Homo sapiens: one gene and its partner. The protein of the gene in region 1 purifies or fractionates together with the protein of each later gene. This does not show direct contact. Each region holds a gene or a part of one and is shown on either strand. Other genes may lie near its edges.

What was found. Proteins that work in one complex are often made in the same cells at the same time.
Region 2: the proteins of KCNMB2 (region 1) and UBE3C purify together in Homo sapiens (affinity purification with mass spectrometry; one large-scale study listed by BioGRID and IntAct). This does not show direct contact.

What each region holds. Positions count from the first base shown.
Region 1 is NC_000003.12:178,825,913-178,830,967, forward strand, and holds part of KCNMB2 (calcium-activated potassium channel subunit beta-2), read left to right. Parts: intron 1-2,265; coding exon 2,266-2,461; intron 2,462-5,055. UniProt on the Homo sapiens protein: Regulatory subunit of the calcium activated potassium KCNMA1 (maxiK) channel. Modulates the calcium sensitivity and gating kinetics of KCNMA1, thereby contributing to KCNMA1 channel diversity.
Region 2 is NC_000007.14:157,204,155-157,209,209, forward strand, and holds part of UBE3C (ubiquitin-protein ligase E3C), read left to right. Parts: intron 1-3,243; coding exon 3,244-3,401; intron 3,402-3,548; coding exon 3,549-3,781; intron 3,782-5,055. UniProt on the Homo sapiens protein: E3 ubiquitin-protein ligase that specifically catalyzes 'Lys-29'- and 'Lys-48'-linked polyubiquitin chains.

The DNA.
Region 1 (5,055 bases):
ATAATAATGATACATATAGCTCTATGTATAATCTGGATACCAGGTGTCAAAGACTTCTACTTCTTTAATTATCACAATTACTCTATAAGGTAAGTATAAATATACTCATTATAAAAACGGCAAAACTGAGGCTCAAGAGAGATATGATTTCCCCAGTGTCATACAGCTCTTGCTTGTGGCAGAGCTAAGATTCAAGCCCACATCTCGCTTATTCCAAAGTCACTGTTCCTGCCACTTCACACTTCTGTCCGTTCCCCACCCTCCTCCCTTTTCCACCCCAACCAACCCCTCCCTCACCTTCCACGTGAGTGGTTCTCAACTGTATATTCCAATTTCCCCAGAAACTCTTAAAAATGCTAATACCCAGCCCCCATCATCATCAACCCAGAAGGTCAGATTTAATTGGTCCGGAGTGGGACCCAGTCACCAGTATCTATTAAAGCTCCCCAGGTTGTTCTAATGGGCCTTCTAGGCTGAGAAACACTGCTATGCATCAACTTTTAAAAATAACAGATTTTGAATCTTTTCATTTCAATATTTGCTGTAGGTGTATTGAATGGATAGGGAGGCAAATAAATTGTGGGATAGCAAGTGTACTCCTGTCCTCAGTAAGCCATGTAGTAAATCCCACCAGCATCTCTAGCTAACTGTTGTCCATAAATTGGACACTCTAAACACAGGCAAGCCCAGCCCTGATGTATCGAATGAAGTCTCACAGCAGTTCAGCTTAAAGAAACAAGACCTTTTCAAATGAAAAATTGAGGTTTCAATCCAAAAGAAAATGAAACCATTTTGTGGCATTTGTTTCTCCATCTAAATTAATACTTTCATTTTAGAAGCAAAATCTAGCTGAAATACAGTAATTTGCTGAAATTAAGGCATCGTCTTTCACATTTGTGGCTGCTCTGCTCTGTTTCTCTGATGGCCTTCAGCTGTGCTCATTTTCTATGAAAGTGCTGATGCCTCAGGCCCCAAGTGGTCGTTGATTCCAAAATGCTTTCAGCTCTTCACATCTGGTTAGAACCATCAGAGACTTTTTCCTCAGTATATAAGCAAAATGTGACCACCCATGTTCCAGGAAAATACAGTTTGCCACACCAAGGGAGGGGATCAGGTCTAGTATCCTGCTTCTGGAATAAAACTTCACACATGCAAAGGGGTAGGAAGCTGTGGATGCCTGTCCAACAAAAGGAAAGCGTATTAATCTGCAAAGAAAACATGTTTTCCCATTGCTATGGTGATCAGCTTATACCCAAAACCAAACCATCAATTGCTGGTGTGTTAATTCCTAATTACAAATGTTAATCTTGATCATAAAATTAAAGGTATTTTTAAATGACCAGTTGACCAATGGGCAGCTGGAATCCTTCCAGGTGAGAGATAACAGGGCACCCTTATTCATCCATTAGTCTGCATAAAAGGGTTTCTTTTCCATTGTGTTTGTGGGGAGACAGCAAAACACAATAGAATGAGCCTGGGCCTTAGAGAATTACAAGATTGGATCACAATTTCCAACACTTACTGCCCATATGTCCTTGCATATGTCATGGGATTTCTCAGTTCACTCACTTTTAAAAAGAAATTACTACCCAACTTGCACAGCTGTTGAGAGAACAAAAGAAGGTAATGTATGTAAATTACCAATTAGGGTGAAAGGAATGTGCAGTAAGTGATTGCTCATGACATAATGAAAGGGTTGAGTTATCTTTTTTCCCTTATTAGAAAGACCTTAAGGCATTCTGTCACTGTCCTTCCATCTCTGTCAAGCTGGACCACATGACCCTCCACTCCTTTGCCATCTCTCCCCTCCTTCTCCCTCACACCTTCTGTGCCTACAAACTGGGCTGGGGAGGGAGCTGGGATGCAGAAAGTACAAAGTAAAACATACAGAGGTAGGGGCTGGAGCATGTCAAGAAGCTGCCTACAATGTAGAAATACAGGGTGAGGACAGGTGATGATTTTAAAGTATGCCTCATGTTACCAGTGAGTTCCATAAGGGAAAAAAGAACTTAAGTCAAGCACTGGAGAATACCATATCCAATGGAAGTCATTGAAAACGTTCTCACGTGTCCACGTTTGTCTATGTTATACGGTAGTTTGCTTAAAGCTGTTCTATTCGAAGGCCTAAACTTTACACAGATAGATCATATTAGAGATTTAGAAAAGATTTTTCAGCTTCAGGAGATGAGAAATAATTCCCTCGGACTATACCTTTCTCACTATTAGCTCTTGGGCCTGTGTTTACTCTCACCCCTTTCTCTGCAGCGTGTGGACCGAAGAGTCTCAATGCACCTTGCTGAATGCGTCCATCACGGAAACATTTAATTGCTCCTTCAGCTGTGGTCCAGACTGCTGGAAACTTTCTCAGTACCCCTGCCTCCAGGTGTACGTTAACCTGACTTCTTCCGGGGAAAAGCTCCTCCTCTACCACACAGAAGAGACAATAAAAATCAATCAGAAGGTAGGAACTTGGCGTACTGCATTTCAGTTACCCCACAGAGCTTCACACCAGGCTCTCTGCCTCTGAAGTTCCCCTTTGCCAGCATTTCAAAGGAAAATACTTCCAGGAAGCAGAGCCTGCCTCTTCCATTCAGAGAACTTGCTATGTGACTCTTGCCTAGAAAATATTTATTTTCTGTGCAAGTTGTGGACAAATCATTCCTACATTTGTGGTAGTGCAGATTTAGCTTTCACTTCCATTTGAAAGGGTAAATATTAATATATCTTTACACAAATAGACTGAGTCTTTCAAAGCAAGTATGCAACTTAGAGATGTACAAGACAAAACCATGTGTTTGTCCTGTACCTGGGAACCATCAGGTAAAGGTGTATTCTGTTTGTCCATGGTCAATGTCATTTAGTTCTGTGACCTCAGGGATATAACAACCTTTCTGATCCTCAGCTTCCTTTTCTCTAAAAAGTAACAAATGGCCACCTTGCAAGGTCCTTATGAAGATGAGTCCTGAGCATGTACAATGTTAAGCAGAGCATGCTACTTTCAACCCATGGTCACTGTGTGTGTGTGTGTGTGTGTGTGTGTGTGTGTGTGTGTGTGTGTGTGTTCTTCACATATGTTATATTCATAGAGGCTGAATTTTCCAGTCCACTAAGATATTCAAGTCCACATGGTAGATATTCAACGAATGTGTATTTTATTAAAGCTTTACATAAAATTTACATTTATAAGGTCTGGGATGACCAGGAAGGTGTCAGCAGAACCAACTTGCCATTACAATTTTAAGTTAAATATATTGAGTTTTGGATTTGTGGTAACAATTCGATATGCAGAATAATCTCATATGCCAAGACAACTCGATGCCACTCTTGGCTCTTATTACCAGGATAAACCCTTCTGACCTCTAATCTTTCTTGTAAAAGCTTTTCTTTTCATTAAATTGTCAGCACTTAAATGATATAACTTATAGTTATTGAAAAAAATGCAGTAGATTCAAGGTTCAATACTAGCACATAGAGAGTGAATGGGATTTGTTTCTGATAAACCCACCTTGAACTTTTGTTACAATAACTTAAAGGAATTCTTGCAAATATCTCTGAGGACTCAACATAATAAATATTTCAGAGAATGTTGTTTGAAAATGCTGGCTCTGATTTTCTTTCATTTGTAGTAGCCACAAATAATACCAGTCCCAGCGCTGTGCTGCAGTATGTAAAGCCTAGCTCTCTCACAAAGTGCTTGTCTTTCAAGATCTTCCCTTAAGTCAGATCTTAAAATCAAAGCTGACCAGTAATGACAAATGCCTATAAAACTCTTAAACCTGAATAGGCATCAAAAAGTGGGACATATTTTCATTTCCTCATTTTGACAATTTATCACTACAGCCCTGTGAATGCATTATTTAGGCTATAAACGGAGAGGGAAGCTACCAATAAATGTCCCAGATATGTATTCAGGACTGGTACCTTATTTGCTCTCAGCATAATACTAGGTCATCATTTGTTTTATTGGCCCCACTATCTTGTTTTTTAAAGTAAATTATAACATACAGAACTGTGCATGAAATGAAAAAGTACAGCTCAAGTATGACAAACAGATTCGTAACCACCGTGTAACCACCTTAAGGGTAAAGAAATACAACATTTTCTGTACCCCAAAAACACCCTACATGCCCCCTCTCAATAACTACAGGCTCTGCCTCCACCAAAGACAACTATCCTGACTGTTTATGGCAATTACTTTCTTACTTTCCTTTGTACTTTTATCACCTAAGGATATATCCTTAAACATATATATTTTGTTAATAGTTTTGCCTCATTTTTAAGCATTATATAAATGGAATCACATAGAATACTTTCCTTTCTGTCTGGTTTTCTTCACATAGCGTTATGTTTGTTAGATTTATTCCATTTGGTTACAGTTCATTCATTTTCATTACTGTATCATATTCCATTGTATGAGTATGTCTGTTTATTTATTCATTCTACTGCTGATGGACATTTTGAATTGTCTATAGTTTGGGACTACTACAAGTAATTCTACCATGAATATTCTCATATATGTCTCTGGTGCACAAGCACACACACTTCCATCGGGTATAAACCTGGGAATGGAATATTTAAATCATAGAGTATCCATATCTTAAAGTTAAGTAGATAATGCCAAGTAGTTTTCCAAAATGTATATGCAAATATACATTCTCACCAACCCTATGGGTATGAGAGTTCTTACTGCTCCAAATCTTTGCCAACATTTGGTAATATCTGTAATTTTAATTTAGCTAATGTAGTGATATTTCCTCATGATTCTGATGACTAATGTTATCAAGTGCCTTTTCATTTATTTATTGGCCATTTGGGTATCCATTTTGGGCAGTGTCCGTGCAAGTTGTTTGCCCATTTTTCTGTGGAATTGTTTCTTCTTTACATTCAATATAGGAATCATTTAAATATGAACCTCTGTTGGTTATATGTGTTGTAAATATCTTCTCGCATTATGTGGCCTTTTCACTCTCTGAATGTCTTTCAGTGGAAGAAACTTCTAATTTCAGTGTAACCAGATTTTGTCAATCTTTTTCTTTCTGTTCAGTGCTTTTGCTG
Region 2 (5,055 bases), on another chromosome or scaffold:
GGCACCATCTGTAAATGTCTCATATTTCCTACTGGGAATAAAGTTTAAAATGAAATAACTGATTTTCTGAAACTGGCACTCAATTTAAGTCAAAAATAGTTTAACAGTAAGGCTTGCATTGCTAGGACTTACAGCTTTAGTGGGCAGAAGTATCATCAGGGGAGCGTGTTAAAATGCATATTCTCCTGAGACGAGATTGCGCCATTGCACTCCAGCCTGGGTAACAAGAGGGAAACTTTGTTTCAAAAAAAAAAAAAAAAAAAATTTCAGCTTCTCTGTTCCTGCCCTAAGACTTGGGTTAGAAACCCTGGAGACTGCAACCTCACAAGCTTATCAGGTAATCGAGGTACAGATGGTTTGGGGGCCAACCGAGAAGCACTATTCTTCACCCCAGTCTAGCAGACCACATTTAAACAATCTCCAGATGGATAGTGAATTTTGACACATCAGACATTTTGCAAATAACATCTTTATTCATTTACCTCATTTTCAGTACTTGCTATTGAAATCAGCCAGTTTAGTTTCCTTCTTCTTGAAGATGAGGGAACCCATAGCCAGCTGGTACTGTTTTCCATTAGGCATCCCTTGACTACAACATAACATAGAGATGCTTTGCCCAGATGTCTTCAGTGTGGGCAGTAGGTGCTGGTGTTGGCTGTTTGATAAATAATCTCAAAACAGTCTACAGTAGTATTCTGAAAACCTGTTAAAGCAAGAATCCGTTCTTAAAAGCTCTTTGCAAGGGTGGGGGACATTGGACGAGGAGGAGGAGTGGTTCCCACAGGCACGCAATTTGAAAACCCTTGTTCTCAAGATCTAGACAGAGGTTAGGGATTGCCTCGGGTCTCACTGATGGTCAGTAATTCACCTAGCTCCCCTGAGTTATGTGTGAATCAGTGTCTTTTCCATTACAGTAAGTTGCAGACTTTATTTGCACATAAGTCTTTGAGACTGACCTGTTTTCAGAGGAATATTTGAGTCAGTGTTTATAGCAGAAAGAATGGTCAGCAGAGAACTAAGAGACCTGTGTCTCGTTTGTGCCCTGTCTGCAGGGCAGCATTGGCACATATCCTTGCCAATCCCAGTTTTTGTCATTAAAGTAAAAATGATGCATTCCTTTTGCTTGTTTCACAGGGGGTTTGAAGAGGACAAATAAGTTTTTGTTGGTTAATTACCCTGTCCCTTTTTTTTTTGGACCCAATATAAGAATTTTATGCATCCTGCAATATGTGTGCATAACTGATGATGTGTTGGTGGTGATGATTCTTGTCAGGGATAACAGTACAAGTACAAGGATTCTTGTCGGGGATAACAGTGGAAAGCAGGCTCATCAAGACGCAGGAGTGGGCTCCAGCTGTCATAGGCAGGGCTGTTGAAAGAAGCCACCCCTGTCCAGTTAAGGCAGCCCTGTGCCTTTTTTATCCTCCATATAAACAACCTTTTTGTGTCATCCTGGCTTTGGCAATGAGGTAGGACAATTGTGCTTTGTCCCTTTTTGAATGTCCCACAATGTTTAAATTTTGGAAGAATGGCATTCATTCATTGATGAATCTGTTCAGCATAGTGCTAAATGCAGAGTATCACAACTGCAAACATGGATCATGTATGCTCAGGTTGTGTAGCATGTGGACATAGTGTATCTTCTCTGTGGGAACACAGTTTCAGGTGCACATATGGGTTCCTTTTCTCAAAGCGGTTGATGATGGCAGTGCCCTCCCCTGAACCATGCACCATGGAGACTCAGAAGCTCCAGGTGGCTCAGCCAAGCTCCTTACGGCCCCGCTAATTAGAACAAGTGGCCTTACCTTCTGCTTTGCTTTCATACATGATTTGTAGATCCTGACTCCTGGTTACATCTCATCTAATATATACCTGTAGTTTTGTGGAAATGGATATTTGGGGAGATAAGAGAGTGATCTTGCTCACAGTGTCTGTTAACCTGTGATTGATTTGACTTGGTAGAGGGGACCATGGACTTTATAGAAAGAGCTTGCAGGTGAGCCTATTAGCTAAAAGTTCCATAAGACAAGGAACCAGACTTAAAAACGAGAGAAAAGGAAGAAGTTCTAGGTGAAATAAGTCAATTTAATATATCGTAGCTCTTTTTTATTTATTTATTTTTTTTGGAAACGGAGTCTCGCCCTGTTGCCCAGGCTGGAGTGCAATGGCACGATCTCGGCTCACTGCAACCTCCGCTGCTCGGGTTCAAGTGATTCCCCTGCCTCAGCCTCCCAAGTAGCTGGGATTACAGGCACGTGCCACCACACCCAGCTAATTTTTTGTATCTTTAGTAGAGATGGGGTTTCACCATGTTGGCCAGGCTGGTCTCGAACTCTTGACCTTGTGATCCACCCACCTCGGCCTCCCAGAGTGCTGGGATTACAGGCGTGAGCCACCATACCCAGCCTTTTTTCTTTTCTTTTTTTTTTTCCTTAATATTTTAAACTTCTTTGAAACAGAGTCTGGCTCTGTTCCCCAGGCTGGAGTGCAGTGGCGCAATCTCAGCTCATGGCAACCTCTGCCTCCTGGGCTCAAGCCATTCTCCTGCCTCAGCCTCCTATGTAACTAGGAAGGACTACAGGCACCTATCACCACACCTGGCTAATTAATTTAATATATCATAGCTCTTGATGGGTGAAAGGCTGCTGAGTAAAGACCACCTTAGCTGCTGTGAAAGCAGGAGCAGGATGGGAGCTGGTGAATAAAGTGGACAGTGGGAGCAAGGCCACCATAGAGAACTGGAAACTTTGTTTCTTGAGGTTCCAGTTTGGCTTCAATATTGAATAGCTTTCAACGTTACCAAAAGTTAAGTCGCTGGATAAATTTTTCCTGAGACCAGAATGATTTGCCTTTATTAAATATGTTGAGTAGAAGGGAAGGGGGATGGTTTCCTCATAAGAGTAAAGTACATGTGTGTCTTGAATAGTGGCCTTATTAGAGCTCTTCTTAGGGCCTTAGTCTGGGAACGACTGGCTTACTCTTAGTAACTTCATTATCTAGTTGGTACAGGTAGCAGAAACCTTAGTGAAGATTAATGGGTTGGTATGCTATTTTTTGTATTAATCTATGCTGTTTATTAACCTGCATTGCCATGGTGACTTTACCTTGCCTTTAAATAGTTTAATTCCTAATGCAAATGTTACTTTCCCTGATTATATTTGTTTGATGTTATGTTTTAATTAGTTCCCAAACTAAGACTAATTTTAAAGTGACTGGTTTTTTTCTTCTTTTCTTTAATTCAAGGTCTATGGTACCGTTGCTTCAGGTGATATCCAGGGGTTCTCCTATGTCTTTTGAAGATTCTAGTCGAATCATCCCACTCTTTTATCTTTTTAGCTCCTTGTTTAGTCATTCACTAATTTCCATACATGATAACGAATTCTTCGGTGATCCCATAGAAGGTAAGGATTTTGAGAAACCAGTTTGCTGCTGGCCACTTGGCCCATCAGTTTTCATAGACAGTAGAAAAGTTTTAAGCTTTTTAAGTCTTTCAGTGTGTGTTAAAAGATGGAAAAAGAAACAATAGAAAACTGGATTGTGTTTTTTAGTTGTAGGTCAAAGACAATCATCAATGATGCCTTTTACTTTAGAAGAGCTGATAATGTTGTCTCGATGCCTTCGAGATGCATGCCTGGGGATCATCAAGTTGGCTTATCCAGAAACCAAGCCAGAAGTTCGAGAAGAATATATTACAGCATTTCAGAGTATTGGAGTTACTACTAGCTCTGAAATGCAACAATGCATACAGATGGAACAGAAAAGATGGATTCAGTTATTTAAGGTATAGAGTATATGTATTTTTTTGTTTACTGACATTGAAAAATGTACAAACTTTTGTCTTGACTCGTTGCAGAGGAATAAAAATGCAGGTTTGTTTCAGACATGTTTTAATTTGCAAGACTTTTTTTTTTTTTTTTTTTTTTTTTTTTTTTTTTTTTGATACATGGACTTGATGTGTCTCCCAGGCTGGAGTGCAATGACACCATCATACTCCACTGCAGCCTTGAACTCCTGGGATCAAGCAATCCTCTCACCTCAGCCTCCTGAGTAGCTGGGGCTACTGGCACATGCCACCACACCCAGCTAATTTATTAGTTTTTTTGTAGAGACAGAGTCTCACTGTGTTACCCAGGCTGGTCTCAAATTCCTGGCCTCATGGATTCCTCCTGCTTCTGCCTCCCATAGTGCTGGGATTATAGGCGTGAGCCACTGCAGCTGGCCTATATACCTTTTTAATTAAGAAAAGTAATTTTAGTACTTTTGATTAATTAAGGTAATTTAATTAACTAAAATTACTTTCATTTTAATTTACATTTGCCTCACTTAAAACCATGTTTTTAAACCTTGTTACATGCATCTTTTCTATGTGGCCCTAACTACTTAACTGTGACACGATGAAATATAAATACAGTTTTTAAAATGTTTTTATTTTTCACTAAATATTTCTTAGATTTTATTGTTTTTTCAAACCTTTCAAAAATTGATTAACAACGTAAAGTAGGTCATTAATTTTTAATGCTAGTTGTATATAAATTATTTTAACATATCTTCGTTCTTAACCAGAAAGTGAAGTTTTGAGTTACTGTGGCTGGAATGTTGGCAGGAAACCACCACCAGTGAGAATGTAACTGTTGGGATGGAAAAAAAGAAAAGGAAAAGGGTGCTTGACTTCCCATGAAATTTCTGCAGCAAACACATCTAGTCAGCTAAAATTGCTCATTAAAGGAGTGAGAGCAGAAGAAATGCATTTTCCAAATTGAATGCTAGATTTACAGTCCGTTTAATACCAGCGACCTCTCGCACACTAATGTTCAGTTCGAGTCATCAGCTGTCCCTTTGGGTCTTTTATCACTGCTTTTGTCAAGCTATCTATTTAATTGAAAGAAGTTAATTGAATGAAAATGATCAACTAAGCTTGTATTAATATTGCTAATGGAACTTTCTTCTTGGCCATGTTTGGAGAAAGATGTCAAGCTAGACTTTAGGAAGGGCCCATTAATGCTTGCACTTAACCTGATGGGCTAATTAAGGAATGCTTATTCATCCTCCAAGTCC